Homo sapiens: one gene and its partner. The protein of the gene in region 1 purifies or fractionates together with the protein of each later gene. This does not show direct contact. Each region holds a gene or a part of one and is shown in the gene's direction. Other genes may lie near its edges.

The links. Proteins that work in one complex are often made in the same cells at the same time.
Region 2: the proteins of HRH1 (region 1) and GDPD5 purify together in Homo sapiens (co-immunoprecipitation; one large-scale study listed by IntAct). This does not show direct contact.

What each region holds. Positions count from the first base shown.
Region 1 is NC_000003.12:11,152,919-11,156,668, forward strand, and holds the start of HRH1 (histamine H1 receptor), read left to right. Parts: upstream 1-1,574; 5' UTR 1,575-1,636; intron 1,637-1,827; exon of another isoform or gene 1,828-2,213; intron 2,214-3,750. UniProt on the Homo sapiens protein: G-protein-coupled receptor for histamine, a biogenic amine that functions as an immune modulator and a neurotransmitter.
Region 2 is NC_000011.10:75,438,833-75,442,482, reverse strand, and holds part of GDPD5 (glycerophosphodiester phosphodiesterase domain-containing protein 5), read left to right. Parts: coding exon 1-120; intron 121-679; coding exon 680-837; intron 838-1,172; coding exon 1,173-1,320; intron 1,321-2,521; coding exon 2,522-2,604; intron 2,605-3,650. UniProt on the Homo sapiens protein: Glycerophosphodiester phosphodiesterase that promotes neurite formation and drives spinal motor neuron differentiation.

The sequences.
Region 1 (3,750 bases):
GGACAGTGACATGGCCTGCCATTATCTCAAGGCCAAAGTCTCATATCACTGGGCATCACAAAGTCCTTTAATCCCCACCTTGCAGATGGGATCAGTGATCTCTGAGCTACCATTTATGGAGCACTAAGCCCTTTATAGAAATGGCATCATGAAACTTTCCAACAGCCCCACGGAGATGAAGTTATAACAGCACCTTGGACCTTGGGGCCAGGCTGAGTAGGGTGGATGCTCAGTTCTCCTACATGTGACCTTGTGCAAGTTACTCAATCTCTCTGTGCCTTCATTTTCTCACCTGTAAAATAGGGATAATAATAGTTCCTACCTACTAGGACCTATTATTGTTGTGAGGATTAAATGAGTAAGCATCTGTAGCACTTAGAAAAGCATCTGACACAATGGCCCCTGTCTTTATGAACCCTTGTGTTACCGACATGGGCCCTGAGGCCAAGAAAAAGGACCATGGACCTACCATACACAGCTTGTGAAGCTGAGCCTCAGACCCAGCTCTGTGTGGTCCACAACCAGGGCTGGTGGGACTGCTGCTACTGGGAGGAGGCTAAAATACCCCTCTGACCCCCACCCCCACACCCCAACCCACCATGTCCCACCTCCTCAAACACCCTCCTCTCCCTGTGAGCTTAGGTGGTCCCTTCGAAACTGCTGGGGTAAAATCTGAAACCATAACTGTTCAAAGGTTCAAATGGAGTTTTCCCGGCGCTGAGAAGGCAGAAAAACCTCGACCTCTCTCTCCCAGCTCTGGAAATGAAGGCAGCCAGGAAGAATCCTCAAGCTCCCATTGCCAGGGACAGAGGTTCCCGGGGACCTGCAGAGGGGCCTCACCCCCACCCCACTCCTCCCCTTGCTGCTCGGGGTGGCACAGGTTGCTAATTAAAACACATCCTATTTTGAAATGTGGGCTCATTCATCAGGACGGGCTAGGGAGAAACAGAAGAGAGGTGTGAGGTTGTAGACCCTGGGGTCTCTTTAGTTCCCCGAAACCTCTAGGGGTAGGGTTCCTACTGTCAATCTTGTTCCACCTCTGTCTGACTTTGCCTTTTTCGATTTTGGCGCCCCTAGCAGGAATGAGGGGCGCAGGTATCACTATTTGTCTTTTTCAATCTATCTGTGATTGACTCTGCCAAACATCGTTTCATCTCTATTTCCATCTGTGCCTCTTTGTCTTGATTTATCTCTGTCTGTCGTTTTGTGTGCCCGCAGGTGCGTGGGTGGGGGTGGAGTTGTCTCACCAAGGTTCTGACCCTTCTGCCACCCCTCCTTCCAAACCCAAGGAGCAGTCCGCCTCGCAGAGCCCGAGCCCGGGTACCCAGCGGGAGCAGCTCCAAACCTGGGGCGCGAGCTGGGAGAGGGTGTCCGAGCGAGAGGCGCGCCCCTCGCGCCCCCTCTCTCCGCGGGGGCGGCCCTGGGCGCGTGGAACCGGGTGCGGGGGCGCTGCAGGCCCGCGGGGCCCGGGTCCCCGCCTTCCCCGCTGCTCGCGGGTGGGCCCCTCGGAGCGGCTCCTCCTCCGGCGCCCCGCTCCCCGAGAGCTCCCCGGCGCCCCCGCCGCCGCCCCCGCGACACCCAGCAGCCTGGCCGCCGCGGCCAACGCGCCACCAAACTTTCCCCGGAGCCGGCGCCGGTGAGTCGCAGCGGGGCGCGGGCTTGGGCGGGAGCGGGGCCGCCGCGGCTGGGCGAGGCTGCGCGCTGGCCAGGCTGGGTTCCGGGCATCCCGGCAGGGCGGCCGGGAACCCCGGAGCCGCCCGCTTGAGAAGAGCGCGCTTGGGTACCCTCGCGACGCGGGTGGCCTGGGGAGGGTGGCGGAGGGCGGCTCGCTCGGTGGCACCGCTCCCCTCTCCACACTGTGGCCTCAGCACTCGACGCGCAGACACCTTTAGCTTCCCCGGGCTTGGGCAGGGTGCGCGCCCTGAGCGTCCGTCTTTGAGCTCGGGCGAGCAGAGGGGGAGCCTCGTTTTCTTTGAGCCTCCCCAGGGTCTGAGTTCGCTGCTAACCGTAGTGCCAGCCCATTGGTTGAGTGCGTTCACTGTGCCAGGCTTTGGGCATCCATTATCTGTTGCAATATTGTTATACTCATTTTACAGAGGAGGAAACTGAGGCTCGGGGAGGGAAGTTGTGCCCAGGAGCATCAGCTGGTTAAGGGGAGAGAGTCAGGGTTTTGCTCGGAGTCATCCTGATCCAAATCACTTGAATACACTGAGGTAAGCCCCAGGCTCAGCGTCACCTGGAGTCGGGGGTGGGAACTGTCCGGACCACCACCCGCCCTTCCCCTGCAGTTCGGCTGCAGCTGGGGGTGTGGAGCAAGAGGCGGATCACCTCCTCCTCGTTGTACCGAGAGAGGAGGATGCTTTGGGAAAATGAGTGGATATTATGGCCAGGGAGTGGATTCTGGTGACAGAAAAGCATCGGGGCTGCTCTTTCAGAGATCAGATTCTAGAAGTTGCTCTCAGTTTTTCTCGAAGGAGCCCAGGAAGCCAGGAGCAGGAGCTGGAGTACAGCAGCTCCTCAAGGAAGTCACGTCTCCTGCTCTGTTACCCCACCCCCAGCCCCCAGTCCTCCATGAAGATCCCACCTCTTCCCTCCTGATTCCCTGATCCCTCTGAGGTGTCCGCTTGCCTGGCAGCTGATAGTGCAGAGATGTTCCAGGCAGAGTGGCTGTCCTCCGGCAGAGGGCTCCCGCCTCAGCCTGGAGCAGACAAGACGAGGCAGGCTGGGAGTCCTGGTGAACAAGGTTTTCAGGCTGGAAGGTGCCTGAATAACTCATTTCATGATTGCGGGGCCAGAAACCTGTGACAGGAGCACAGACGGAGTGTGTCCCTGGAGCATGAAGGAGAGGGGAATTGAGGGTCTTATAGGAAGAGTCTTGGAGGCAGCCAGAAACCAGCAGAGACTGGGAGAGAGGGAGGGTGTACACATGAGAGCATCATTATGCATTATCCCATCACAGCATTCTTGGAAGGTAAGTACTATTATTGAACAGATAGTCTACTGAGGCTCAGAGAGGTTAAGTAATTTGCTTGAGATTGCCCAGCTGGTCCATGACAGAATTGGGGTTTGAACACCCATGTTGCCTGACTCCCTCTAGATTATGAATGAAACTGAGGTGGCAGATGGGACCTTAGCTCCTTCTTTGCTTGTGTCTGGCAGCAGCAAAGGATGAATAGAGGAAAGCCAGGCAGCAGGTCCACTGCTCACAGGAATCCTGGACAACCCCATGTAAATCCTCGAGTGTGATTCAGGCATTTCTCCTGGTGTGGGGAGAATCTACGGAGAAGGGCAGGGGATGCCTGGCATTGTTTTCATTTTCAAATGTGACAGAGAATCCCGTGGAGGCAGGAGATGGACAGGTGCTGCCTGTCCATGATTTCAGGGCTGGGTGGAGGCCGGAGCAGCCTGCCAAGAGACCCTGCACCCCAGAGTGGTTTGGCCAATGCTGGGCTGGGAGTGGTCCTTCCTGACCCTCAGCTGAGTGTCCAAGGGAGGAGGGACTTATACATGAGCCTCCTCCTCTTCGACTCTCTCAGAATTCTGTGTTGGCACTTTCCTCTTCACAATGAAGGAGTGCCTGGCTTTTCCTTAGCAGAGAAAACACATAGCAAAGACATCAAAAGTGTGGGATTCTGGAGCTCACCTGTTGGGGTTCACATCTCAGCACTGTTGCTTATGAGTTTTGTGGCCTTGGTCAAGTTGCTACACGTCTCCGTTCCTTGGTTTCCCCATTTTTAGAATGGGGGTATT
Region 2 (3,650 bases), on another chromosome or scaffold:
AAGGGCAATGCCACACTGCTGCTCAACCTGCGTGACCCGCCCCGGGAGCACCCCTACCGCAGCAGTTTTATCAACGTGACTCTGGAGGCCGTGCTGCACTCCGGCTTCCCCCAGCACCAGGTGAGGCCCTGCAACGCAGCTCTGCCCCCGGGAGCCCTGGCCTGGCTAGAGCCCTGCTGCTGCATAGCCTTTCCCTGTTGCACTCCGGACTTCAGCTTTCCCATTTGTAAAATGGGGATCACACACTGCTCACTTCCCTGGCAGGGTCATCATGGGACAAGAGGGGAACAAGAAAACACTTTAAAATGTATAAAGGTCCAGGCGGTCAAGTTATTTCAGTGAAGTGTTGCCCTGTCGTTTGGTGTAATAATCTGGGACCAGAGAAATCTGACATCAGTTTAGGACGGCACACTAGGTGCTAGTGGCCATGTGCAGAGTAGTGGCTGTTTGGGTTTTCCCTCCCGTACTGACAGCAGGCCAGAAGCGAAGTTTCCTGAGTTGCTGCCAGTGCACTTTGCAGCCTTGGCTGGGACTGAGTCCTGCCCTGCTAATGACTTCATCTAAGCTTTCACCGCCTGCCAGGTCCTGTCTCTTAACCCCACAGGTGCTCTAGGAGGAGTAGGTACTCTTACGCATCGTGCAGAAGAGAAGTCTGAGGCTGCCTCTCTTCTGCCTGCAGGTCATGTGGCTGCCTAGCAGGCAGAGGCCCCTGGTGCGGAAGGTGGCTCCCGGCTTCCAACAGACATCAGGCTCCAAGGAGGCAGTCGCCAGCCTGCGGAGAGGCCACATCCAGCGGCTGAACCTGCGCTACACTCAGGTGTCCCGCCAGGAGCTCAGGTGCCTGCCCTGCCCTGGGCTCCTCCAGGAGAGGGTGGGACTGAGTCTCTCCCAGTCCTGCCACCACCACCCCCCAACACACACACACACACACACACACACGGTCGGGCAGAGGGATGGGCACACAGAGGAATCAGGCACACATGGTTCAAAGACAAGAGGGTGAGCGTGTCGGGCAGACCCGGGCTTGTCCCGGAGCTTGGCCCTCTGGAGCCAATGTTCCTTGCCCCGGGCATGGCTGTGAGGTCGTGAACAGGACGTGCTTTACCAGCCCCGACACTGGGCCTGGAGCTGCCAGGGTCCGCATGCTGACCTGCCTCTCCCCTGCCCCACAGGGACTACGCGTCCTGGAACCTGAGTGTGAACCTCTACACAGTCAACGCACCGTGGCTCTTCTCCCTGCTGTGGTGTGCGGGGGTCCCATCCGTCACCTCTGACAACTCCCACGCCCTGTCCCAGGTGCCTTCCCCCCTCTGGATCATGGTGAGTTGGGGGGCAGAGGGCCCCTGGGGGGCAGTGCTGGAGCTGCCTATAGCCTGCCCTGACCACTCGGCAAGCTCTGTGCTTGGAGCTGTCCCTGGGAGGTCTCTAGCATGGTGGGGAGTCCATGGTGGGCGTGCAGGCTTGAGGCATGAGGGTTTCATGGCATCTGGGATCTGCACTAAGGTGCTGGGAGGACCCTGGGCCTCATCCACAGGGAGAAAAGCATCACTAAGGGCTCTAAAGAAGTAAAGAGCTGCTTGGGTTTCTTTGCTTTGGAGGGTAACAAGGACAGGAATAGGAAGCATTGACCGGGCGTGGGGCTCACGCCTATAATCCCAGCATTTTGGGAAGCAGAGGCAGGATGATCACTGGAGCCCAGGGGTACAAGACTAACCTGGGCAACCCTGTCTCTACAAAAAAAAATAATAATAATTAATTAATTTGCTGGCCAAGGTGGCACACGCCTGTAGTCCTAGCTACTCGGTAGGCTGAAGTGGGAGGATTGCTTGAGCCCAGCAGGTCAAAGCTGCAGTGAGCTGTGATCACTCCAGCCTGGATGACAAAGTGAGATCCTGTCTCAAAAAATAAAAATAAAAAAGAATAGGAAACAATTAAAATCTGCTCAGAGAACAGCAAATAAAGCAATATTTTAGCTGGTTGACTGGGCACCTGCAGATAGGTGGTGGCTCCACTGTCACCCTGAGCATGCAGAAGGCAGGTGGAGGGTATCCTTATGGCTGAGAGAATGCAGTGCCAATGAATCAGACCTAAGCTGTGGATGGTTCTATGGGAGAGGAGGGTGAAGGGAAGGCAGCCTGGGGAAAGGGTCGAGACCGATGGATGAGAGTCGGCAGCGGGGGGCGGCAAAGCCATTGTCTTTCAGTATCTGGCTCCTGCTTTGAGGACCCTAGACACACAGACCCTGCAGGCCTAGCACACAACCCCTCTGCCCTGAGCACCATACAGTCCCCTCCTACCCTGAGAGTGCACACGTGTGCACACACACGCCCCGGCCCCCAGGCCCACAGCGCCTGGAGCCTACACCTGCAAAATGTCATCTTCAGCCCCCAGACCCTCTCAGGGTCCTCCCTTGCCCTTCCCCAGTGGCCATGTGGGGTCCTTTGGTCCACGGACCCTCAGTCTGGAGCCTCAGTCTGGACTGGCCATGACTGGAAGTTGGCCTCGGGCCGTCTGTCCACAGCCCCCGGACGAGTACTGTCTCATGTGGGTCACTGCCGACCTGGTCTCCTTCACCCTCATCGTGGGCATCTTCGTGCTCCAGAAGTGAGTAGGATCTGACCACTTCCGTGGCTGTCCCTACCCTGCAGCAGGCCCAGCCCCCACCCCAGCCAGGTGAACCCTCTCCTGAGCCCTGGGCCTCAGCCAGGAGCAGGCCTGACCAGGGAAGAAGGACGGACTCCGGTGGCCCCATCCTCCCTCAGACAGAGGCTGGGTGACTTCTGGAATGAACATGCAGCTGGGATCCCAGAGCCAAGCTCTGCCTTGGGTGGCTATGTGGGCTTAGGTGAATTTCAGCTCCTCACCGGGCTGGCCTGCTCATCTGTTAGCCAGGGCATGGGTTCCCACCAGCCCTCAGCAAGATAGCTGGGGTGTGCTCGCAGTGGGGAGGTGTGGTTGGTCCCAGGGAGGGTCTAGGGCCAGCCTGGGGCCCCCACCCAGCCAGGAACCAAGGGGCTGGGATTTTATTCTTGACTGATGTTCTCTCTCTGTCCCATCCTGCTCTGATCGGCGCATGTCCCTCCTCTCTCCCCCTCCCCCTCTCTCTGCTGCACTCTGGCATCTCACAGCTATCACTTGATCAGGTAATTCTGGTGTGGTCTTCCTCCTCCTTCTGTTCCTCTTTCTCCCTCTTGCCATCCCTTCTCCAGTTCTGTCTAAAAACCCACCGTGCACCAAGCCCTGTGCCCGGGCCACCTCGCAGACAGCGCGCTCGCCTGAAGCCTCCCTTACCCCCGCAATCCTCTTTTCTGCTCCTCCCGTCCCACTGCCGTGTGTGTCCCTCTGCTCCCTGTTCCCACGGCCGTTTCTGCAGGTGGGGACCAGCGTTTCCTTGACAGCTTCCTGACCTGGCCCCTCTCTGCACCAAAGTGTCTCCCTGGGGGAGGGGACCCTGCCTGGGTACCCCCATCCCCCTGCCTCTGGCACTTACAGGGGCCTTCACCACTTGCCCAGGGCAGACCCTACCAAGTTTCTGCCTCTCTCTTCCCATCTTCTCCCTCCCTGGCTCTGCCTCTCCCACTGTTCACTCTTCCTGTTTACCTTTCTCTGCCTCTCCCATCTCTTTCTCTCTCTTCTTTACATTCTATCTC